Linked DNA regions of Homo sapiens: all the other regions are linked to region 1. The links come from fine-mapping of genetic effects on gene expression. A gene starts in region 1. Each other region holds a variant in brackets. All regions are shown on one strand. Distances are from middle to middle.

The links. PIP is the estimated chance that this variant, and not a neighbour inherited with it, causes the effect.
Region 2: its variant is the best candidate, but not a certain one, in a credible set for the expression of TRIM44 in aorta (GTEx, PIP 0.73).
Region 3: its variant is the best candidate, but not a certain one, in a credible set for the expression of TRIM44 in whole blood (INTERVAL, PIP 0.58).
Region 4: its variant is the best candidate, but not a certain one, in a credible set for the expression of TRIM44 in tibial artery (GTEx, PIP 0.76).
Region 5: its variant is the best candidate, but not a certain one, in a credible set for the expression of TRIM44 in whole blood (INTERVAL, PIP 0.57).

Annotation. Positions count from the first base shown.
Region 1 is chr11:35,659,744-35,664,849 of GRCh38, forward strand. TRIM44 (tripartite motif containing 44) reads left to right here and starts at 3,032. Exons shown (of 5, transcript NM_017583.6): 1 at 3,032-4,037. The coding sequence starts at 3,369. RefSeq lists enhancers at 2,689-3,008, 3,220-3,720 and a silencer at 3,049-3,428.
Region 2 is chr11:35,707,364-35,712,469 of GRCh38, forward strand. The region is part of intron 2 of TRIM44 (tripartite motif containing 44); the gene reads left to right. Among named protein-coding and RNA genes, the nearest start is that of TRIM44, 47 kb to the left of the region's middle. The variant T/G (reference allele first, on the strand shown) is at 2,889.
Region 3 is chr11:35,788,589-35,793,694 of GRCh38, forward strand. All of the region lies in intron 4 of TRIM44 (tripartite motif containing 44), which reads left to right. Among named protein-coding and RNA genes, the nearest start is that of TRIM44, 130 kb to the left of the region's middle. The variant A/C (reference allele first, on the strand shown) is at 2,113.
Region 4 is chr11:35,813,123-35,818,228 of GRCh38, forward strand. TRIM44 (tripartite motif containing 44) reads left to right here. Exons shown (of 5, transcript NM_017583.6): 5 at 1-4,885. Among named protein-coding and RNA genes, the nearest start is that of LDLRAD3, 130 kb to the right of the region's middle. The variant T/C (reference allele first, on the strand shown) is at 2,460.
Region 5 is chr11:35,799,984-35,805,089 of GRCh38, forward strand. The region is part of intron 4 of TRIM44 (tripartite motif containing 44); the gene reads left to right. Among named protein-coding and RNA genes, the nearest start is that of TRIM44, 140 kb to the left of the region's middle. The variant G/A (reference allele first, on the strand shown) is at 2,109.

The DNA.
Region 1 (5,106 bases):
ATCACTTGCTTTGTGAGAATTCAACTGCCCTGTCTTGAAGACATTCCAGCAGCCCTATAGAAAGTGGTGAGGCCTTTTGCCAACAGCCATGTGAATGAACCATCTTGGAAGCAAATTCTATGCTTGTAGGTAAGCCTTCAAGTGACGATAGCACAGCCAACATCTTTACCAAAATCTCTTGAAAGACCCTAAGTCAGAACCACTCAGCTAAGTCACTCCCAGAGTCCTTGCTCACAGAAACTATGTAAGATAATAAATGTTTATTGTTTTAAGCTGCTACATTTTGATGTCATTTTCTATGTAGCAATAGGTTAATATAACAAGGGTGCTATTTGTGGACACTCCCAAAGATACTAATTCCTGGGGAATCAGATGGTTCGGATTTCTCTGCAGAGGGGTACAGAGATCTGCCTCATTGAGTCTGCCACACCTTGTCACCAGAAATTTATGGAGTCCCTTTTTAATAGTTTAATCTGGCCAGGTGTGGTGGTTCATACCTGTAATCCCAGAACTTTGAGAGGTCGAGGCTGGTGGATCACTTGAGTCTAGGAGTTCGAGAGCAACCTGGGCAACATGGCAAAACCCCATCTCTACTAAAAATACTAAAGGTAGCCGGGCATGGTGGCACACACCTGTAATCCTAGCTACTTGGGAGGCTGAGGCAGGAGAATCGCTTGAACCCGGGACGCAGAGGTTGCAGTGAGCCAAGATCGTGCCAACGCACTCCAGCCTGGGCAAAAGAGCAAGACTCCATCTTAAAAAAAAAAAGTTTAATCTGTCTGCCTCTAAGACCCTTTCTCCACAGAGTGCTCAAGAAGAATTGTAAAGTGTCAGATACTGAACTGCACAGTATTATATTTTAACTTTCTGTCAGATAACATTAAGAAGAAACAGTAATAACAATAATGATGACATGACTCCCCCTCCCCTCATCAAATACCCTGGATACAACAATGTCCTTTTAAGATATTAAAAAGGCCAGGCCTGTGGCTCACACCTATAATCCCAGCACTTTGGGAGCCTGAGGTGGGAGGATCACTTGAGTCCAGGAGTTCAAGACCAGTCTGGGCAACATAGTGAGACCCCGTCTCTACAAAAAATACCAAAACAAGTAGTGGGGCTTAGTGGCTCACGCCTGTGGTCCTAGCTACTTGGGAGGCACTTGGGAGGACTGCTTGAGCCCAAGAGGCTGAGGCTGCAGTGAACTGTGATTGAACCACTGCACTCCTGCCTGGGCAACAGAGAGAGACCCTGTCACCAAAAAAAAAAATAAATAAAAAAAATAAAAATTATTTTCATTGAATAAAAGACTTTCTAAATGTGAGAACGTTATGTTTGTAAAGGCTAAGTTGTTTCCTTTTAAGCCTGGGGGAGGACAGGAGTAGAAATAACCAAGCAAGGCACACTTCTCATTAGGTATATTAACGTTGATGTTTGAGTTGACATTTGTTGAATTTTTTTTTTCAGAATGGTGCTTCAATTCATGTTTCAAAAGCAGACACAGAAATAATTTCCAGAGAAATGAGCTGGGGGAAAACAGAAATGTGTATGGAATTGGAACAAAATAAACCTGATTTTTTTCAACATTGTATAGAATTGTTCTGAGGTTAAAAAGAAAGGTTTCTAAAAAATAAATATCTAACAAAAGCTGCACAAAGATTAGGCATACATTATCCATGGAGACATTAAAAACTATTAAAAAGGTTTTTTTACCCCACCTCATCCCCTGGTATGTTTGAGGAAAGCATCTGGAAATTCTAACTCAAAATCATCTAAGGGAATCAATGTAAAACAGACACCATTCCATCCCCTTTCATCCTTCTTAATACACCTCAGCCTCTCCCTTGACTAGATAAAAACGTAATTTTCCCTCTCCCAAATACAGTGCAAAACAAAAACTCTTCTGTGAATGGAGAGACATGGATATGGGGTAGAGGTGGAGACTTGCCTACATTACCAGCAGCCAGCCGAAAATGCCCTGTGTGTGTAAAATATGTTCCTTCAAAGGGGCATTGTGAGCACTAAATATAATTTGTGCCAAAAATAATAATGAAAGCTTAGTGAATACTCTACAGTGCAGGCATCGTTACATTTAATCCACAAAACTACCCCATGAGGTAGATATTTACCGTTCTTTTCACTTAACATCTTTTTTAAAAAGCGGAAAACAGAATGATGAATTAACTTGTCCATGGTCATAAAACTGATAGGTAGTGGCACCAGGATTTGGGGACCATCGGGCAGAGGATCTTCCAAAACCGGCTTTTAAAGAGCCACAAAAAGATGTAGCCGGGTTCTTGGCACTACAGTACTGCTTTATAAACAACAGTTCCCTTCTTTTCTCTTAGAGCCCAGTGGGAATCTAGAGGGACACCTTACATAAAGGAAAATGACTGCAACCTGGACCTGTCACTCGACAAATACTGCCTCTCCCCACCTCACTTCACCTGACGTCTCTGCCCAACCGAAGGCAGCTCTCAGAAAACCGCACAGAGGTTACCACCCCAGAAATTCTGAGATCCTAGGAGGTAGCAATGCAAATAGACAAAGCACAGTATTGCTTTGGATCGAAAATATTTGTTTGCTCATCCTAACTCCAATTCCCCTAGCCTAGAACAAACATAGCCCTTCCGCACTCAGGAAATCCCAAGAGGTCAGGTTCAGTCTGGTAAACAACACTGTCCGGGCACCTTGCAGAACACTGGGGACTGTGACGGGCGGCGACAAATTGGCACAAGAGAGACTGAAATGCACAGGGACACCAGCCTAGTGGCCGTGAAAACTCAAGTTGACACTTCCAGGGAGGGAATGGGGGAGGTGGAGCCCAATTCCTGCTTCTGGAGAGAGTAAGAGACTTCCTCCATCCTCCTTCTCCCTCCTCCTCCTCCAAGGCACGCTGAGATTTGGAGCGGAGGAGCTGAGCCCCGCGGGAAAAGCAGAAAAGGGTCATTGCCACTTTAAATGACTCAGGAAGTAAAAGGAGGCCTCCTGACGGGGAAAGGGAAAGTGGAACCGGGGCGGCGCGGGGGCCGGCGGCTGCCGCGATCTCTCCCTGGTAGCGGGAGGCTGAGCGGGCGGCGCGACGCGGGGGCCGACGGGGGCGCCGGGTGGCCGCGCCGGAAGTGCCTTGCGCGGCAGAGGAAGCGCAGGGACAGAGCGGAGCAGGCCGAGCCGGCGGAAAGGGTCTTTGCTGCTGCGCCCGGGCAGGGGCTGCCGCGGCCCCAGGTCCCGCTTCGAGACGCGGCGCGGTCCAGGCGGGAGGCGACTCCCTAGGAAGGGACCCGGGGCGGGAGGAGGAAGTGAGGCCGCGCGGAAGGAAGGCGGCGAGCCCCGGGGCCCCGAGGCCTTGGCCGCGTCACAGCACCCACATGGCCTCTGGAGTGGGCGCGGCCTTCGAGGAACTGCCTCACGACGGCACGTGTGACGAGTGCGAGCCCGACGAGGCTCCGGGGGCCGAGGAAGTGTGCCGAGAATGCGGCTTCTGCTACTGCCGCCGCCATGCCGAGGCGCACAGGCAGAAGTTCCTCAGTCACCATCTGGCCGAATACGTCCACGGCTCCCAGGCCTGGACCCCGCCAGCTGACGGAGAGGGGGCGGGGAAGGAAGAAGCGGAGGTCAAGGTGGAGCAGGAGAGGGAGATAGAAAGCGAGGCAGGGGAAGAGAGTGAGTCGGAGGAAGAGAGCGAGTCAGAGGAAGAGAGCGAGACAGAGGAAGAGAGTGAGGATGAGAGCGATGAGGAGAGTGAAGAAGACAGCGAGGAAGAAATGGAGGATGAGCAAGAAAGCGAGGCCGAAGAAGACAACCAAGAAGAAGGGGAATCCGAGGCGGAGGGAGAAACTGAGGCAGAAAGTGAATTTGACCCAGAAATAGAAATGGAAGCAGAGAGAGTGGCCAAGAGGAAGTGTCCGGACCATGGGCTTGATTTGAGTACCTATTGCCAGGAAGATAGGCAGCTCATCTGTGTCCTGTGTCCAGTCATTGGGGCTCACCAGGGCCACCAACTCTCCACCCTAGACGAAGCCTTTGAAGAATTAAGAGTAAGTATTGGGCCTTCAGAGCATAAACCTAGGGGTCAGGACACCTGGGTTTCAACTCAGGTGGCCTGGCTGTGACCACATTCGCTTTCACTGTGTCCCTAAGAAGCTAGTCTTTCCAACTTTTTGGGAGCAGTTCTTATTCACCGTTTTTGGTTGAACTCTTTTGAGAATCTGATGAAAGTTCTGGACTCTGACCTGAGAAAATACACACAAAATCTAGTATACAATTTCTAGAAAATTGCAAGTTTCTGGTCTGTGGATCCCAGGTAAAGCATTTCTTGGGAGTTTTGACCCCACTTAGGCCAATTTCCACAGCATCACTATTGTTGAAACTGGTGCTTTGTGCTAGGGCTCTTGATAAGGCAATCTTTTTGCCTACTTGAAAACATGGGAAATAGGATTTTGCCACATGAATCCAAGCAAGTGATACGTCTGCATTGAAAAGACTAACAAAATAGTTTTAATAGTAACTTCATATGTGCCCCGAGTTCATTTTAGATTCTTCGTGTTTGAAACTTAGTAGAAAAGGAGGGTAAGAAGATGGAGGCCAAATTGGGGTGGGAGTGGAAGTTCCCATGTCCTCTGTCTGGATCTTTGTCTGTCGTGGACCTTACTGGTCCCCCAGAACAGTGGACACTTCGGAAATATTTGTTGAATGAATGAATTTGCAGACGATGCACCTTTTATTCATATTGTGGATGTTTACTATCATTGAGAGAAACTGCTGGTGTTAATCGGGGAGGGAGGGGGAAATTTTGAGTGGAGTGATCAGTTCATTAAGTAATCTGTATTAGTGAACATTGTCATATTATGATGACTTTTGCTTCCCTGAATAGGGAATAGCTGGCATTGGGATAACAAATACCTTGAGAGTGAAGATCCTCTGTATTAGGTTTTCCCTTTTTTAGTGCCTATTTATAATTGTAAAATGCACATTCAGAAAGTGTGTAAAAACTTACAGTCTAACAAATAATTATAAAACAAGTACTGAGGTAGTCTCCATCCAGATTAAGAAATAGAACATTACTAGCAATATTGAAGCCTTTTCCCCATACCTTTTCCAATTATA
Region 2 (5,106 bases), 48 kb after region 1:
ATCCCCATGAAGCTACCAATGACTTTCTTCACAGAATTGGAAAAAACTACTTTAAAGTTCATATGGAACCAAAAAAGAGCCCGCATCACCAAGTCAATTGTAAGCCAAAAGGAAAAGCTGGAGGTGTCATGCTACCTGACTTCAAACTATACTACAAGGCTACAGTAACCAAAACAGCATGGTACTGGTACCAAAACAGAGATATAGATCATTGGAACAGAAAAGAGCCCTCAGAAATAACGCCGCATATCTACAACTATCTGTTCTTTGACAAACCTGACAAAAACAAGAGATGGGGAAAGGATTCCCTATTTAATAAATGGTGCTGGGAAAACTGGCTAGCCATATGTAGAAAGCTGAAACTGGATCCCTTCCTTACACCTTATACAAAAATTAATTCAAGATGGATTAAAGACTTACATGTTAGACCTAAAACCATAAAAATCCTAGAAAACCCAGGCAATACCATTCAAGACACAGGCATGGGCAAGGACTTCACGTCTAAAACACCAAAAGCAATGGCAACAAAAGCCAAAATTGACAAATGGGATCTAATTAAACTAAAGAGCTTCTGCACAGCAAAAGAAACTACCATCAGAGTGAACAGGCAACCTACAAAATGGGAGAAAATTTTTGCAACCTACTCATCTGACAAAGGGCTAATATCCAGAATCTACAATGAACTCAAGCAAATTTACAAGAAAAATACAACCCCATCAAAAAGTGGGCAAAGGATATGAACAGACACTTCTCAAAAGAAGACATTCATGCAGCCAAAAGACACATGAAAAAATGCTCATCATCACTGGCCATCAGAGAAATGCAAATCAAAACCACAATGAGATACCATCTCACACCAGTTAGAATGGCGATCATTTAAAAAGTCAGGAAACAACAGGTGCTGGAGAGGATGTGGAGAAATAGGAACACTTTTACAGTGTTGGTGGGACTGTAAACTAGTTCAACCATTATGGAAGTCAGTGAGTGTGGCGATTCCTCAGGGATCTAGAACTAGAAATACCATTTGACCCAGCCATCCCATTACTGGGTATGTACCCAAAGGATTATAAATCATGCTGCTATAAAGACACATGCACATGTATGTTTATTGTGGCACTATTCACAATAGCAAAGACTTGGAACCAACCCAAATGTCCAACAATGATAGACTGGATTAAGAAAATGTGGCACATATACACCATGGAATACTATGCAGCCATAAAAATGAAGAGTTCATGTCCTTTGTAGGGACATGGATGAAATTGGAAATCATCATTCTCAGTAAACTATCGTAAGAACAAAAAACCAAACACTGCATATTCTCACTCACAGGTGGGAATTGAACAATGAGAACACATGGACGCAGGAAGGGGAACATCACACTCTGGGGACTGTTGTGGGGTGTGGGGAGGAGGGAGGGAGAGCATTAGGGGATATACCTAATGCTAAATGACTAGTTAATGGGTGCAGCACACCAGCATGGCACATGTATACAACTGTAACTAACCTGCACATTGTGCACATGTACCCTAAAACTTAAAATATAATAATAATAAAAAATAAATAAAAAATGAAAACACATTAAAATAAATAAATAAACATGCACTGATGTTGCCATGCCCCCCCCCCAAAAAAAAAGAACTTTACTGAGAGGAGGACCTCTACCCCAATCCCTTCCTTTACTCAGGTAAAACGTACCCCATTACTTATCCAAAGTCAGCCAATTGGTGCTGCAGTTTATTTCCTTTGGATGGGGATAGTAACTAAGCTGAAAGATTAGCAGATTTAATTTTTGGAGGCTCTCATTTGTAAATGCACTTCAGTGCATTGTTGTTTATTCAGAACATTCTACTGTAAGTTACCTTTAGTAAGATTTTGTCATTTTCTGTGAGACTTTGCTGCCTCCTGTGCCTAATGCATAAGCCAGAAGGAACTCAGGTTTTCAGAAGTTATGTATCCCATTTTTACATAAAATATTGGCTTTGCTCTCAGATTCCCTTGATTAACCTAGCCAATGATTTTTCCTACCTAAGTGGGCAAGAAAAATGAAACAAAGGGATGAAACAAAAAAATCCTTGCAAATCTTTAAGAGCTAAATTTTATACCCCTAAAATATTACCATTTGCTGTCAGTTTCTTTCTGACCCAGTCAGATGTAAGAGGCCTCTAACTGGATCCAAGCCAATTAATTACCAGACCAAATCCATTCCTGGACCCAGCCCAGTTTCCGTCATGACTTCCAAACCCAGTTTGGTTCAGAAATTTGCTCAAAGAAACTCGGAGAGCTCAAAATGCAAATCCGTGGGGCTCCAAAATCCAAGAGACAACTTACACTCCCCAGCTACTCTGAGAGATCAGAGGACACAAGTGGATCCTGTGGGCACCTTACTTGTTCACTCAGCACTCCTGGGGGTCGTTAGAAGCTATACTTCAGACCCCACTTCTGACACCATTTGTTTAAACAAAAACGTCAGCTGAATTAAATTTAAAGGAGTCTAATTGAAAAATGAACAATTTGTGAATCGGGCAGCCCCCAGAATCACAGCAGATTCAGAGAGACTCCAGGGATGCCTTGTGGTCAGAACAAATTTATAGACCAAAAAAAAGTAAAATGACATACAGAAATTGGAAGTGAGGTACAGAAACAGCTGGATTCATTACAGTTCAGCAGTTGCCTTATTTGCACACAGTTTGAACCCTCAGCAGTGTGTGACTGGATGAAATATGGCTGCTGGGATTGGCGAAGACTCAGTGATTGTTACAGGCGCATACTCCTAAATTAAGTTTTCAATCTTGTCTATTAAGTTAGGTTACAGTTCATCCACAAGGACTCAAATATAGAATTACAGAGTCCTTTTCAGGCCATATTTAGTTTGCTTTATATATATA[T/G]AGAGAGAGAGCTTTGTATCCTACCTTTTTCACCTAAGGTTATCTCTTATAAATGGATACAATTTTATCATTTGAATCCTGTTCCATTGTTGAACCTCAATTTAGAAAACTGGGATTCTGAACAATAATTTTCCTGTCTACCCTTCAGCATTCTTAGTTGAGACAAACCCTTTTAACAAAGACAGATTATCAAGAGAAAAACAAGTTTATTAACATATATACCTCGTGTGTGCATGTGATACCTAAGGGAAGATAAGTAAATCCCAAAGAGGTAGCTTTGAGTTCAGGCATGAATACCATGGAAGGGAAGGCTAGTTATGGGGAGATGCCCAGGAAAAGCATAGTAAACAAAGGTAAAGTTTATTATGCAGATTTAAGTTGGTGCCTTCTCCATTTATAACATAAAAGAGTTTCTAGTGATTGGAAGTCATCCTTCTCTTCCTGGTATAGAGAGGGAGACAACCCTGCAAATGGAGATTTCCTTTACAGATGTACATTTCTCTTACAAAAGGGTAACTTCCCTTGTTTTCAGTACTTCTCCTGTATTTGCAGTTTCTCCAAATAATCAGCTCAAAACAATTCTTCTGCCAAAGAGGCGTATTTTGGGATGGAATATTCTGGCCTCCTACAGTCATATTTTGGGATAGCATATCTTGAACCCCATCAGTAGTTACTGACAGAAGTTATTCACAAAAGACCAAATATATGATTCTATCTATATGAAATGTTCAGAATAGGCAAATATATAGAGATAGAAAGAGACTCAATACTGTATGGGACTGAGGGAGGTGGAGGAATGTGGGGTGACTGCTAATAGCAATGGGGTTTCTTTTGGGGGTGATGAAAATGTTTTAAAACCAATGGTAATGATAGTTGCACAACTCTGGGAATATACTACAAACCACAAAATTGTATACTTTAAATGGGTAAATTGTAAAATATGTGAATTATATCTCAATAAAACTGTTGAAAGAGAACAAGATTACTGCCTGAATCAGTTTTTTCAACCATTCACTTGAAGTGTCAGCAGTGAATATTAATTTTCTTTTTCCTTTTCTCTTCCTGACAGGGATGAGGGTTAAAAACCTGATGTTGGCCTCTGACAGGAGGAGGCAGTATACTACAATTATTAAAAGTTCAGGAATTGCCCTATCAGCTCAATGCTATCTGACCTTGGGCAAATCTGTGCTTAATCTCTTCATTTCTCAGATTTTTTGTTTTTTTTTTTTTCAGTTCCAAAATAGGGAATAATAGTACATATTTCATAGGTTGTTGGGAAAATAAGTGAGATAATCCTTTTAAAGTGTTGAGTACATTAAGGAGACCCCCCATCTCTACTAAAAATTAAAAAAAAATTAGCCAGGCATAGAGGCACATGCCTATTGTCCCAGCTACTTGGGAGACTGAGGTGGGAGGATCTCTTGACCCCAGGAGATCGAGGCTGCAGTGAGCCATGGCTGTACCACTGCACTCCAGCCTGGGCAACATAGTGAGATCCTGTTTCAAAAAAAGTGCAGAGTACAGCCTCCTATAAATTGTGGCTGCTGTTAGCCTCCAGTCCGGAGAATAACCCTTACTTCCAGCAGAAGGGCAAGGGTACGTGAGGGCACCTTCCTCCCCACAAAGTTCCAGAAACCTTCCAAGCCTTGTAGAGAAAAATAAGCCACCTGTTTATAAATAATTCTATGCTTTGATCAATTAACACTTCCTAGGAATAATGACACCAATTGCATGTTTTAAAGGGCCATTGATACCTGTTTGAGTGATAATGACTTGCAAATAAATTGAGTTCAGTCTCCACTTTTGGGATCCCTTGGTGTGTGGTTTGTTGGCTCACTCACTCTGTGAGTGAACTTGCCTGGCTGCAGAGTAACTGGCAGTAGTTCAGCATAGGTCTGTTGCCTGTTCAAGTCAAAGCAAATGTATCTGCCTTGGGAGTGTGTAGTTGTGTGTCCATATATTCCCAATAGAAAGAAGAAATCAATGCATTGAAGCAAGTATGTTTATTGTTATGAAGCAGACTCCCTAGTTAGCAGAACTGCTTGGTGCCCAACTATAAGAAAAATAAAGAAGTTATTTTAGGAATAACTTTACTTAAAGTTATTTAAGAAACACATTAGGAAATATATTCCCACTTTAAAGTAAACGCTACTGAGATTCTTCACTCCCTACCTCCTCTTCTCCCTTCCCCTGCAGCTTTACCTTATCCTTCTCTTTC
Region 3 (5,106 bases), 130 kb after region 1:
CCATGTTGTGACCATTCATGCCAATTAAAATGAATAAGAACTAAGTGATCGTCTTGCCTTTCACACAAACCAGTGGTTCTCAGCGTTGGTTGCTGGACCCCTACAGTTAATGGCTCTATTTCCAAAGCCTGGTCTTTCCATCCTCTTCAGTGGGCAAAAAGAGGCATGTGATTAGCCACCAGAGGCCTTAGTCCCACCAGGGCTCTGAGCTGTATCAGAAATCAGACTAAGGAGAGGTGGCTGGAGAAGCAGTTTGGGAAGGACATAAGCTTTCTCTTTACAGCTGAACATAAACTAAGTTGTTCCACAGGCTTTGCTTAAACTTTTACAGACAGAATTATCACTCTTCTTTTTAACTCCTTTTTTCTTTCTTGTGTATATTTCAGCCTGAGGCCCTAAAAATAGTTTTTTTATAGAGGAGTATCTTTATTGTCTCACAGCAAATATTTTTTAATTTGAAAACAACTCTCAAAAGAATTCTCTCATCTTTTCCCCAAAGTGGTTGACTGAAAAATATTTATTTTATTGTCATTCCCCTCCTCCTACCTGTCTCTGCTGGGCTGAGTGAAGATTGCAGTGGAATGTTTTAAGTAGTGAGTGGGTGAGTGGCTAGGGAAAGTAAAAGACCTATGCACCTCATGCTAACTTCTCATGTTAGGGTAGAAGAGCCATCTGATATATTTATTGTTCTATATTAAACTTGAGTCTGATTGGGACTGAGAATGTGAGAGCCTTAGAAATCATCTAATCCAAGGAGGAAGAAGGGGACACAGCAATATGTCATGAAAGTTTAGTATGTGTAGGGTAGTGCTTCATACAGCGTTTAATGAGAAAAGTGATCACTTAATAGTTTACCATGTGCTATATGTTTTTACATTCATTAAGCACCTGGGAATCATTGATCCTCTTTCACAAGTGAGGAAACTGGGACCCAGTGGAATAAGTTTTGCCCAGAGGGTACTCAGTTAATAAGTAGAAGAACTGGATTCAGCCTTGATTTCTCTGGCTGTGCACTCCTGCTCCTCTTAGCCTAAAAGGCAAGGTTGAGAGTTCTGACAGCAGGGAACCTTGTCATCCAAATTACTGACAGTTGCCCCTCAGTTAAGCCGTCTTAGAGGGCGACCGGGCCTTACTCAGTTCTAAGAGGCATATTCCCCTGGTGCTCCTTAGGGTATTTACACTGTTCCTTCTGCCTGGGCCCTGCAATTGGGCCAATGGTGAGCAAGTGCTTTCCAGGTATCGTAAATACATCTTATGACACTTGATTTCTATTGAAATCAATCGTAAATACGATAGATTTCTATTGAAATCTATCGTGAATACATCTTATGACACTTGATTTCTAAGCCATAAACAGGTTCTTCTTCATATAGATGAAACAGGTTTGAAGTTGTAGAATTATGTCATTTGGGTGCCACAGAAGAGCCGGCTTCTGGAAAAACTGGGAGGAGGGCAAAATGTGTCTTTAATAATCCTTATTTGCTTCTTTCAGTGCCCGGTACTTATGCCCTAGTCCTGACCCTTTAAAGATTATCATTTCTCTTCCCCCCAGCAAAATTTAACCTCATCGTAAGATGACAGCTGGCTCATCCAGAAACTCTTCTGCACTCAAGTGGTTTATGGTGTGGTCCCATGGCATACTCTTGTCTTGTAATACATACTGATTTTTAACTAGGGGCTGAACTGTAAGGAACCTTCTAAGTGCAACACCTTAGACTACAGGAACAATTTTAATAGGGACTTTAGGCTTAATGGCTTATGGGAGATCTTTTGAAAGTGGCAAAGGCCTTGCTGTTTTTCACATGCTCTCATGTTTGGCATCTGTTACCTCCTCCAGTACATAGAGCAGTCCTTTGAATTCAAAGCACTGGACTTTGTTCAATCTTGAGATTGGGTAGTGACATATAAAGGATGGAAAGCTGCAGTCTTCAGTTCCTCTCTTGTCTCTGCTTCAGCTCTATTTGATGTTTTTATGTGTTTTGGGTCATCTAATGGTGACCAGACTAGTGCTGTCTCTCATCTGACAGCACTGAACTGCAGTACAAGGAGAGCCTCTGGTAAGATTGGCTGAAAGTAAATTGATGTGGTGTTCATCTCTTTGCTGTCTACATC[A/C]AGCAACCCTCCTCCCAGGAGGGGCAGATTTCATATAGTTCAGACCTGTTGACTGTATCATGAGCTTTTGGAATATTGAGGTTGGAATGCAGGTGGGGATAGCTTTCTTACCTTCTTTTCCGTTTCCTAGGGAAACTCATAACAAGAACACTTACTAAAAGGGCAGGGGTAGAACTGGGTAGTAGTAAACAGGGAAGGAACAAGGCAGTAGGAGAACAGGGACCCTCTATTCCCTTTCATAAACGTCCACTTCTCAGTTATACTCATCTGAGAAGACATGCTGGCAGAGATGCTTGAGTTATTAACTAGGCATAAGACACCTCATAGTTTCTTGTTTTTTCCATTTCAGAGCCCTCCCACTGTCCCTGGCCCAGACTTTAGACTCCTGGACAAGTGAGTCTGGCTTTGACAAAGAGGGAGCCCTAGCCTCTGCTTGGGAGCAAGTGTCCATTTGCTCCAGACCCCCAGCATCATGACATTGGCACCTGTAATACTCTTCCAAGCTGAGTTGTAGATCTGTGCTGACGATGTAATCACATTTGAGCATCCTAATGCCTGCTGGCCCCCATGTAGGCTTTATATTGAGTTACCACTGGGTGTTTGTTTTTCTTTTTTTCCTGAAACATCTGCTTGTGCTGCCTCAGGGAGTGTCACACAGAACACAGCCTGTATATTTTAAGCATAGCCCTTGTTCACATTTTGAAGTGCTGGCAATGTGGTAGATGCCATATGGAGCCCTGACACCCTTCTCACCTCCTGTTCTTTCCCATCTACACCCCCCGCCCTGACATTTTCTTAGGAGACACTTCAAGCATGACCCATAAAGATAAGCATTAGGAGCTGCTGATGAGACACGTTCTCTCACTGGACCATCGCACATTTTATCTCAGCCATTCTGAACTTTTCACAGCTCCTTGAACATGCCAAGCTGTTTCACATCTTCAAGAGTTTGTTCAAGCTGTTCCCTCCACCTGGCATACCCCCCGCTCCTTGCCCCGTTGTCTTCCTAGAAAATACCAATCCATCTGTCAACACTCAGTGATAAAGTCTTCTCTGACTCTGTAGGTGGAATTTAGCACTTCTTCTCTTATGGCTCATAGCTACATTCTTTGCTATACTGTGAGCTCCTGAATGGTAGAGATATCTGATACACCACTGTGTTCCATCACTGGCATGTATTTGGGGCTCAGTCACTGTGAGGTGAAAGAATAGCCACTGACTTCAGGAGGGGAGTGATACAAAAACAGTTGAATTTAGTTGAGTACTCATTAGGCAGCAGGCTGAACACATTATATCCATTATCTCATTTAATATTTGCATCAACTCTTAAGAGGTAGATCTTAATACCATCCCTTCCTGAGGAGTTGCCCCTACACACACACACACACACACACACACACACACACACACACTCTCTCTCATCATTCTCTATTCCAGCATCCTGGTTTATTTTCTTCATATCCACTATCTGAAATTATTTACGTGTTTGTTGTCAACTTACTGGAAATTAAGCTCCATGAAAACAAGGACTTTGTCAGTCGTTTTCACTGCTATTTTACCTATTTGAGTGCCTTATATACTGTGGGTACTCAATAAATACTTGTTCACTGAAAGCACAAATGAAGGAATGACTCCCCATTTCACAGATGAGGAAACTGAGGCCTAGATGTTAAATAGCTTTGCCAAAGTTACACAGCTCAGAGCTGAAGGGCTTGGATGGTAAGTAATCCTGGTCTCATTCCAAAGTGGATGATCCTAACATATTATACTACCTCCTGTAGGAATTCTTCAAGTAGACAGATCTTAGTGCTCGTAGAGAAAGGTATGCTTTCCTGCTGGATGTAGTTTTTACCTTGAAGGTTTACCTTCCCTGCCTCTTATCTCACCAGTGAAATCCCTCCTTCTGGGCCAAAGCAAGTTATGAGAGCTGCCATATGCCAGCTGCCAAATGTCTTCAGTGCCAGGCATGTTGCCAAACTAGGGGTAAAATAGTGAATGAGAAACAAATGCAGCCTCCAAAGAGCTCAAGTGACAAAGACTGACTTTTACAACATAACGGTGCTGAGGTGCACTGAAGCCCTGAACCTCTGGAGGCTGCAAGGATAGAGCAGTGATGTGTCAGACCACCTGCATCACTGGTTCCCTGATGGCACTTAATTCAAATTTCATCCTTTGGTAGGGTCTAGTGAAAATCAGCTCAAACCTTGAAAGATATTTCTATGTAACCTAATTAAATGAGTGAGACCTTGGTGCCTCTCACTGCAGGACAGGCAGGATTGAAAATGAAACCAATATCTGACCCAACGAGATTCTGTCCTAAGTTCAGGGGAACAGGTTTTGGTGGCAGGCCCTTTTACATGACTGTTTGCTGGAGCCCACAAGAACCAAGATGAGAATCTGAGGGAAATGGCCACTTTGCAGCCAGGTTACAACAGGAGAGTCATGACCGGCTGCAGTTATAAAAACTGAAAAAAAAAAAAAGAAATCTAGCTGTGCGGCTTCTTTTTTAAAAAACAAACAACAAATAAAAAGACACTATTGGGGCCAGGCATAATGGCTCACACGTGTAATCCCAGCACTTTGGGAGGCTGGGGCAGCCGGATCACCTGAGGTCAGGAGTTCGAGACCAGCCTGGCCAACATGGTGAAAACCCGTCGCTACTAAAAATACAAAAATTAGCCTGGCATGGTGGTGTGTGCCTGTAATCCCAGCTACTCAGGAGGCTGAGGCAGGAGAGTCGCTTGAACCCAAGAGGCGGAGGTTGCAGTGAGCCAAGATTACGCCACTGCACTCCAGCCTGTGCGACAGAGTGAGACTCTGTCTCAAAAATAAATAAATAAACTAAGAGACTATTGGGATCCCCTGTAACGAGGAGAAAGTTTTCGAGTAATTGGTGCCCAGACTGGAGTTTGAGTCTGCCAAGGCCTTGGAACATCTTTAGCAACAAGGTACCAGTTACCTCCTCTGCTACTAGTAATGAGGCATTACCAATAA
Region 4 (5,106 bases), 150 kb after region 1:
CAGCTGTCACGGCCACAGCATACCATTTGCCTTATAAAAATGGCCCACAACCTTCACAATATTTTAGGATTCATGGCAACTCATTTACCTAGGGCTTAGCCACCTGATAGCTTTACCTATCCCTATTTCCTGAACACAAAATCTAAACCAGTGGTTTGACAATGAGTAACTGAGACAGAACTAGAAAAATCTAGAACCTCTGCTGAACCCATCAAAAGTGACTGAGAATTAAGAAGTAAGCAAACAAGGCTTCCAACCAATTGAAATAAATACCATGAAGCAAACGCATAAGACAAAGGCCATACATCTAGTCATCAGGCACCTCCTCAGAACCTATTTGCTCTTCCTTCACACATATTTCTAACTGTAAAGGAAAGAAACAGACTTTTAGAGGAAACAAGAAGGAAAAAGGAGGACAGCAATAGAGAAAATGGAAATTTTGAGTAGACTGCAAAGCTCCAAAGCCCTGATATATGGGTTATTTAGTGTCAAAAACAGTCTATACACATCTCAATCTTTAAGAGCCTCACTGTATCATGGGACAATATTCTATTTAAAATGATGACCCTGTGCACCATACATAAAAAAACTATGCTTAGAAGACAAAAATATGTATATCAAACATTTTAGAAATATTTACATCCCAATGGTTAAAAAAAAAAACTTTTAGGAATTAAAAGGAATAAACCTTTGACCATCCAGAATATTTAGCTAAATCAAACAGTGTATATCCCCCTAGCTGACTTTTATTGTTTCATGAGCCTCTGGTGTTCAGAGAGTTTTTTTCACAGCTTTGTAAGTGACTTTCATGCTACAGTGCTTTGCATATAATGGCATGAACAGTGGAGGTGCCAACTTTCCAATGTGATGAATAAAACTAATAACTAGAATACAGATCAAATTCTGTTACAACAAATACTGCTACCATAAAAGTCACTTAAGCATCCCTGTTAGTTCTAAGCCCCTGTCGATTGCCCATTTATTTTAGGCAATAGTCATTCAACAAAATTGGAGCATAATAAAAAGAAACTGGACCTCAGCGCAAGTTGAGTGTTACACAATTTAACCTGTAATAACAGGTTCTCACTTGTATTTCTCCAGCTCTTTGCTGTAAGAAGAATAAACGTTATGTAGATATAATACCAGCGTGACAGCTTGTGGTTGGTGGTTTCTAGAAGAAATAATTCAGAAGCAAAAGACACATGAAGTTATGTGGCAGTTCCTCACTAGGGAATTTGGTCTCCAGGGCCACTTTTGACCTTAATCCATGTTGGAGCCATCAATCAAAGAATTGCTTGCATCTAATAATGGTGTAATGCCAATACTAAGCCCTGGAACGAAGATAGGATTCATTTCTCATGGATTATTGAGCACTCTGGGGTAACCTGGCCCTGATCTGATGACGCTAAGATTTAAAAACCCAGATGCATGTGACTAGAACTATCTTTTCTCCCATGATGCACTGCTTTCAACACTGCATGACTGTAAAAACATGTGCCACGCTGATTATATATAGAGATGGTCTAAATCAGCTGCATCCCATTTGGTACCCAGGCAAGGATTTTTCCATACCTATCTTTTTGCTGGTGGTAATGATGAGTTTTGTCACTTGCTATAACATTCTCTGTCCGTCTTTTTTCTTTTATGTAAATACTTTTGTGACTTCATTGTAACCAGCATTTTGTAATACTCTTAACAGCAGAGGGGATTAAATCATGATTCACTTCTGAACAGTACAATCAGCAGTAGGAAAACGAGGAGGGAGGGAGAGGGAAATTGTCCACCACTTCCCAATGATAATGCCTGGCTCGGACCCCAGATTCACATCATACTTGAAGTTCATAAATTCTGGGCACTGCTCAGCTTGAGGAGGCAGGCATTGCTCCTTCATATTTCAGGGTGAGACAAATGCTCTGTTGAAGCCATGCCACTACAGGATACATTCACCTCTGCTTGCTTTCCTCCCTAAGCCAGAGTGTAGTTAAACATTTATATGTCCCAGGCCAGGAGATCAAATTAAGAGGAGGTTAGCTACTTTCCCTGGCTCTTAAAAACATTTGAGTCCAAGTATGGTTCTCTGGCTTGAGGGTGGCCATTTGTTGCCTCACTGTTTTTATTAGGACATCTGGAGATTAGAGGTGTTAATTGGAAGTAACTTTTCTATATTTGGTTTCTCTCCACACATTATGAGACCTTTTAGACCCAGTTGGATGGCTGTATCCTAGTATGAAATTCAGCTTCTAAGTAGGAAGAACTATGATAGAGGAACAAGATTGCTCTTTGACTTGGTGATAGTAGGGCAATAGGGAGTGTCAGTAGGGTAGTTTCAGGTGGGGAGGATGACAAACCACTGATAACAATAAAAATGGGTATTTCTCAACACTCAAGCCAATTTCCCATTTGATAACAAGTAGGTTCTGATCTATTTTCCCCAAATTAATATTTTCCCTGGAAGATTC[T/C]GACCTGTCTGATCAAATAAAGGCATTCCTCTGAGAGTATACCTAGCCCACTTGTGGCCAAATTATACTTGACTGTTATGTACTCAAAACAAGCTTTCCTGTTAATCTCTTTCTCTTACCTCTATTATGAGGACAAGACGTGGAAGAATTAGGTCACCGGGGCATCTGCCATTGCATATGTTTAAGTGGTATAAAGAAGCCAGGATTCCTAGAATGGTCTGTCTTTTGCCATTTCTGGGACAATGAGAAAATCCATCTGGAGTGTTTATGCCCCTCTGAATAGCCAAGTCATGGGCTTGTTTGCTTTCAGTCACTGCCTTCAGAAAAAGACAATTTTACAATGACTTACTTCTAATAATCACTGAAACAGCCTCATGAGGACATGCAAAACTGCTGTCTATCTTCAGACCTGGCCCATTGTCAAATGGCAGACTTGCAGAGCAAATAAGGGACCTGGCCTAGTTCACAAGGCAGTCAGAAGTGATCCAAAGTTCAGGCTCCCCCTCCCTTTTATCACTCCACCCTGCCTCTACTCCTCCGCCTCCTATTCTTCCGGCCTTTCCATCTGGAAACCATGAGCCTCATGGATTCCAGGCACAAATTCTCAGATTTCAGATGTTTGGGAAATTTCTCAGCTTGGGTCATTCTTCAAGAGTAAGAAATTGAATTTGTGAGAAAAAAAAACAGCTGAGACTGTTTCACAGAAGAGAAAATAAATAAGGTGTGGTGCGTATCCATCCTCTTCCCAACTCAGCTCCAAAACCACACACAATGTCTAACTTCAAAAAGAGTATTTAGATCCCCCCTGGGAAGGAACAGAATGGAAAAACAATCTCCACTCATAAAAACACTTTTCTGCCTTCTACAGTATAAACACAACTGGCATCAGATAATACAATGTAATTGATTTTATGTGTGTAATTGGGGAACAGAAGGGTCTCTAGAGGGTAGACCTAAGAGTAATGGAATGGAGTGAAAAGTAAAATTTAGACTAAATTGTTGGGAGGAAACTGTTAACATTGTGAACCACTTGACCCTAGTGTTGCATCTTCACAAAAAAGAGCAATGTGCCGTCTTCTGTCTTTGGAAAATGGGACAAGCTTGCTCCTGATACTAGGTTTTAGAAGCATACAGACTTGGTTTTAGTACTGGCTTTGTTCTTTACTAACTCTGAACAATTAAATGAGCAGATGGTCTACAGGGCTTAGTACAGTGCCTGACACATAGTAAGCACTTAGAAATGGTAGCTTCTGACTGTTGTGCTGGAGTCCTGTTAGAGATTCAGTAGATGGAGCCACCTTCATGTTGCCCCTCACTGAGCTGCTCTGCTCACCTCTAGATGCTCCCCATGGCTGTTTCATAGCCCTCTGTACCACATCCCCATGTACTTTTTCATATCAACGGTAAGTACCTCAAATTACCGTATGTATTTACTTGTTCATAAGGTTGATGTCTGTAACTCTTTGAAGGTTGTATTAGTCGTTTGCTCCTATATTACTAATGATGACAAAGTCGCCTGACAGAGTAGATGTTCAAATTTATGGACTTAAACTGACTGACATCTTGATAATGCCCATATCCAGAGGTACTCCAGATATTATATCTTCATGCAGAAAACTGAAAGATACCTTTAGCTACATCTACCCCAGAATGAGTGTCCAAAGCAGGTGGCACCACCAAAAGGCACCTTCTTTTCCCATGAAAAGAGGGAAGAGAGTTGAGAAGCCTCACTCCCATCCCTGCTCTGCCACTGACAAGTTGTGTGGCATTTGGCACATCATGTTCTCTCTCTACATGCGCCTAAAATGACGGGTAGGGTCAGAGACATTGGAGGATCTCTCTTTTCTCTTCCACCTCTAACACGGTAAGATCTTAGCAAAGTAAAAAGGACAGTGATAACAGAAAAATTGTTCCTCTAAGAGTCCCAAGTCATCTTTTTTCTCTCCGTGTGTGTTAGCATTTGTGTGTGTCTGTGGGTGTGTATGCATGTGTGTGGAAGCTATACAAGGAAAGCTGAATCCATATGTAGACTTCATGGAGACTAGTACTGCTCCAAATGTGCACAAGCCATGTGATATGGTTTGCCTCTGTGTCCCCACCCAAATCTCATGTTGAAATGTAATCCCCAATGCTGGAGGTGGGACCTGGTGGGAAGATTGGATCATGGGGGAGTTTTCTCATGATTTAACAACATCCGCCCTTTGTTGTCATGATAGTGAGTTCTTGTGAGATCTGGTTGTTTAAAAATATGTGACACCTCCCCCCACCTTCCTTCTGCTCTGGCCATGTAAAGTGCTCACTCCCCCTTTGCCTTCCACCATGATTGTAAGTTTCCTGAAGCCTCCCTAGAAGCTGAGCAGATGCCAGCATCATGCTTGCTGTGCAGCCTGCAGAACTGTGAGCCAATTAAACCTCTTTATGAATTATGCAGTCTCAGGTGTTTCTTTATAGCAGTGAAAGAACGGACTAATACACCACGAAAAAAAAAAATGTACCACAGTCAAATAAACTGGGAAGCAAAACAGTGGGCCAAACAAAGTTAAATAGGTTTCTTCCCTGTAGAATTTCTGGGAGCTTTTAATATGTTCACGTGCATTGTAGAGCTTTCATGTAACAATTTTCTAGTTTTCTGGCAGTTCTGTGTAAC
Region 5 (5,106 bases), 140 kb after region 1:
TTACTCTTGGGTCTGCACTAGGTAATGATCAGGCAGTACTGTGTCTGGAATTTATTCCTTCCAGTGGGTTCTTGATCTCGCTGACTTTCAAGAATGAAGCCGCGGACCTTCGCGGTGAGTGTTACAGCTCTTAAAGGTGGCGTGTCCAGAGTTTGTTCCTTCAGATGTTCAGATGTGTCCGGAGTTTCTTCCTTCCAGTGGGTTTGTGGTCTTGCTGACTTCAGGAATGAAGCCACGGACCTTCACGGCGAGTGTTACAGCTCTTAAAGGTGGTACAGACCCAAAGAGTGAGCGAGCAGCAAGATTTATTATGAAGAGCGAAAGAACAAAGCTTCCATGCTGTGGAAGGGGACCCGAGTGGGTTGCTGCTGCTGGCTCAGGTGGCCAGCTTTTATTCCCTTATTTGGCCCCACCCACATCCTGCTGATTGTTGTGCTTACAGTCCTTTAGCTAGACACAGAGCACTGATTCGTGCATTTTTACAGAGTGCTGATTGGTGTGTTTACAATCCTTTAGCTAGACACAGAGCACTGATTGGTGCGTTTTTACAGAATGCTGATTGGTGCATTTACAATCCTTTAGCTAGACACAGAAAAGTTCTCCAACTTCCCACTCGACCCAGGAGGTCCAGCTGGCTTCACCTCTCAGTACCGGGCATCAACCCAGTATTTGGGCCCAGCCAGAAAGAGGTGAAAGGACTTGGAACATTTAGGCCATCCTTCAGATTGTGGTGATGGGATAGAGAGGGGCACAGGAAGCAAAGAGAGACAGCTGTATGAATGAGAGCAAATTAATTAGCTCAGCAAGTCTATATGTTGGAGGGAAGCTTTCTTAGTTTTTGTCTGGTTTGGAGTTTTCCTAAACTTTGCTTAAAATGCAAGGCATCCTAATTTCCCAGATAAGGATACTGGGTCCTAGAGTCACACAGCAGAACCAGGACTAGAACTCTGGTATTTTCATCATGTTTTTCTCAGTTAGCCCAAAATAGACCAAGGACATTTTACTTTATTTTGTAAAGTTCAGATCCCTTAAAGCACAGTAACCTCCTTATTTTCAGCTCAGGCTGTTGGGGCAGGTGAGTGTGGGACAGAGGGGACAAAGAAGGCAACTCGCTCTGTCTAGTAAAGAAAGGTCCCTGGATCCGAGTGTTTAGTCTGTCTCCCCAGCAGTGCTGATCGCATATTTACTGCAACTAGGCAACCACTTCCTCAGATACTGAAAGTGTGAGACTTCCCAATTGGCTCCTTGTACAATGCCCAGGCAGTGTAATTTTTGGAGAATATTAAATCTATCTTTTTGAATTTCAGCTGACTCTAGCCTTCGTTCCTTGTCAATACCTCTTAATTCCACCATCCTCCTGAGTTAAATAATCCTTTTACAGCAATAATCAATTAATAGATAACCAAGAACTCAGAAGACATGAGTGATGCCAAGTCACATTAAGTTGTACTATATGCTTAGGAAAAGAAACTATTAAACTTGCAAAGTCAGAATGCCTGCTACCTGATTTATTAACTTCCCCTTTATGCCCCTAAAGCTCTGGGGACAGAAGCCAAAAAGCTAAGCTGCCTATATATGCAGCCTAACTAAAAAATGGTCACAGTGAAACACTGTAAAATGATTATGATAAAATATAATCATTTTATCAGCAGGTGTTTAGGGTCTGAATGTGGAGCTTATGGCATGCCTCTGACATTTCAGTTTCACAGGCACCACATCAGACAGTAAGCCCAACTCAGAGAAGGGATACAGCATTCTGCTTACTGGAATGCCTTAGTCTCATTCTGTCACCCCATCCCCTACCCACAACCAAGAAAGTGTTAAATTTCACACCATCCTCCTGGTCAGAATTTAGGAGCTCCCAGTTCCTTTAGCTAAACTTTTTTGTTTTACATCCCCTAAAAGAAATTTTAAAAGTATGTGCCTTTTTGCCCGTTTTTAAATTAATTCCTGAAATCATAGTATCAAGTGTAAATCGTTGCTAAGGGTGTGCTCACTGACATATTGTGTAGTTTATATGAGTTTTTATATATATTTTTGTCAAAACTTTGGCACTGTGAATTTAGCTTATTAAATTTACAAGCAAAGGTGCACTATATAATCTAATT[G/A]GCAAAGCCAATTTTGGTGGTCAAACCATCCAGCCAAATCAGACTTGCTTTCTGTCAGATTAAGTCTGATTTCATTTTTTTCAATACAAATAAACATTAGCACACACCTCATGATAACCACCTCACTTTTGAATTTGAAGTGTTAGATCGATGGATAGATAGATAAAACACACAGCCTTGCCAAGAGTTTCCTGCCTGAATGAAAAAAGAGATTGTCTCCTTTACTATTGCTTGCGGTTCTCTCATAGGACTCCTCTAAGGGAGACATTCTAAAATTGTTACATGCTAAGATTCAGAAGGGTGAGTGAGAGTAGCATTTCTGCGGAAGTGTGGGAGTATGGTGATCTGTAAAGTGGGAGTGGCTGAAACAAGAACCTTACAGAGCACAGGCATGTTTCTGAGAAGGTAAGTTTTAGGAAGCAGTATATATGGAAGTTAAGGATTTGGACATTAATTTTCTTAAAACTACCCAGGCCCAAATACTTCCTGGAAAGTAATTACATACCACAAGGGTATCCATACCCCAGTTTTAAGGCCACCACTTTTAGATACAGCAGTACCCTCAAACTAGATCAGTGACCGAGCTAAGGCCGGTTAACTAAACTTCACTCCGTATTTGTTCTCCCCAGTGTTTGGCAGGCATGACTTTTCTTGAGACCTGCCACCTAGAAGGGTCAGAGTGATACTCAGCCTTTCTAGTTAGTACCTGTATTTCATTAGGTCTGGGTTGTCATTTAAAAAACTCTCCAAGTGAGCAAAGCAGGATACTGTTGCTCTCCAGATATTTGAAGGGTATTTGGGGATAGGAACACACTTGTTCTGGAATGTAATGTTTCAGCTGCCAGAGCTAGGAACATTTGAGGGAAAGGCAGGAGGAGGCAGGTTTTTATTCAGGATAAGAAGGAAGGTGGGTTGAGGAAGAAGGGTAACATTTTTTATCATTTGTATTGCATAAAATACATAAAGCTTTCACAGTAACCCTGGAAGATAGCATTTCGATGAGGAAACTGAGATTCAGAGATGTTAGTGACTTACGTAAGATCCCACAGTTTATTAGTTAATAACAGGCATTTGAACCTAGTTCAGTCTGGTGACACAAAAGTAATTATGTAATGCTGCCTCTCTCATTGGTAAGTACCTGCTATAGAACGTGCTGTCTGCCTAACACCCTTAGTTTATTTAAAAAAAAAAAAAAAAATGAAACAGCCATTAACCTCTGAGTCCCACTCCAGTTGTAAGTCTAAGTGTGACTGGCAGGTGTTTCAGAGGAGCATGATAAGTGGCTGAGGTAGAAGGCTGTATTACTTCCCTTGCAGAAAGTGAAGACTTTTATAGACTAAGATAAAAATCTCATGAACAGTCAGGCATGGTGGCTCATGCCTGTAATCCAGCACTTTGGGAGACTGGGGCAGGCGGAATCACAAGGTCAGGAGTTCAAGGCCAACGTGGTGAAACTCCAGCTCTACTAAAAATACAAAAATTAGCTGGGCATGGTGGCATGCACCTGTAATCCCAGCTACTCAGGAGGCTGAGGCAGGAGAATCGCTTGAACCCGGGAGGCGGAGATTACAGTGAGCGAAGATCGCACTGATGCACTCCAGCCTGGGTGATAGAGCAAGACTCCATCTCAAATATAAATAAATAAAATGAGATAACCTCATGAACATAGATGAGCTTATATACAAAGTTTATATACAAAGTGAAGCAAGAACATTCAGGAGAGGAGATGATGCCTCACACTAATTATATTGTTGAACCCTCCAGGAGAGACGACATACAAGCTGAGCAAAGCTCTGTGTTATAGATTCAGTTATGATCCCTTTTCTTTTTCATTATTGTGAGAAGTGGGTTATTATAAAAATAAGATGCTTTCTTTGAAGGTACTGTTCTGGGAAGAAAAAAAAAAAAAAAAGGTTCTTCCTCCCTCCCCTGAGCCTGTATCTCACCTACTAGGCTTTAAAGTCCTAGAGGGCAACTCCCGTGTTCATCTTATTCATTTTTGTTTCTAGCATCATGACTTACACATGGTTGACAGTCAACAAATATTTAGCAAATGAAGTAATCAATAAATGATATGCCAGTATCCTAAGATCTCATGTTTTAAACTGTGAGATAAATTTCAGGCCCAAGAACACGTCTCTTTTAGGTTAACGAGAAAAGATTTTATCAGTTCAGACTTCAGACCTTTTCCCCAAGCCACTCTCCAAATATTATAGTAAAGAACCTGGCAACCAAAAAGAGTTTATTTATAATTTGGTTATTCCCAATTTGGCAAGAGAGTTGTTGACTTCTTTGAAAATATGATGAAAAGTATGTCTTCTCTCAGACAAAGGAACACACAGATAAAATTCTGTATACAATTTCATTAGGTCCATGAACGTTTAAACTATGTCTCACGTTAAGAATGCTAAAAAGTGAACTGCAGCTTAGGGCAGAGTCACCATGCTGCCCTCATATTTGAAATAAAACTGACAAGAGAACAATGAGAGCTTGCTTTGGATGTAATACCAAAGGGGGAGAATATGACGCCAGTTCCAGCTCTGCCTTGATTCTGGTGAGAAGCTTTCATAAAAGACCCTGTGTTCCCTTTGGGACAGATGCCATTAAATACTGCTTCTTAATGACAGCCCACTGTCCAGCATTTCCAGCATGCACCCTTCATCCCATGATTGTATAACCAGCAGGAAAGGGGAGTGGAAACAGGGCAGAGTTTGGAATGGTGAAGATTATTGAGTTGGTTCTTTTGGCTCCTAGCATACACTTAACTTGCAGGACCTGTTTCTTGAAATGTTTCTGCCCTTAGTGGAAGTTCTAGAAATTTGCTGCCTAGGATATTTTCCCTTAAAGTCTTTCCCAGATGGATGCAAAAGAGCACAGGTTTTATATAGACATAGATAATCCCTTGTGAGATGAAAAATTTCTAGGTAATAGCTGGGAGCTGATGTTCTACAGGCCTTTTCCTTTTCTACCAGCTTGACCACTTCAGACTTTATCCAAC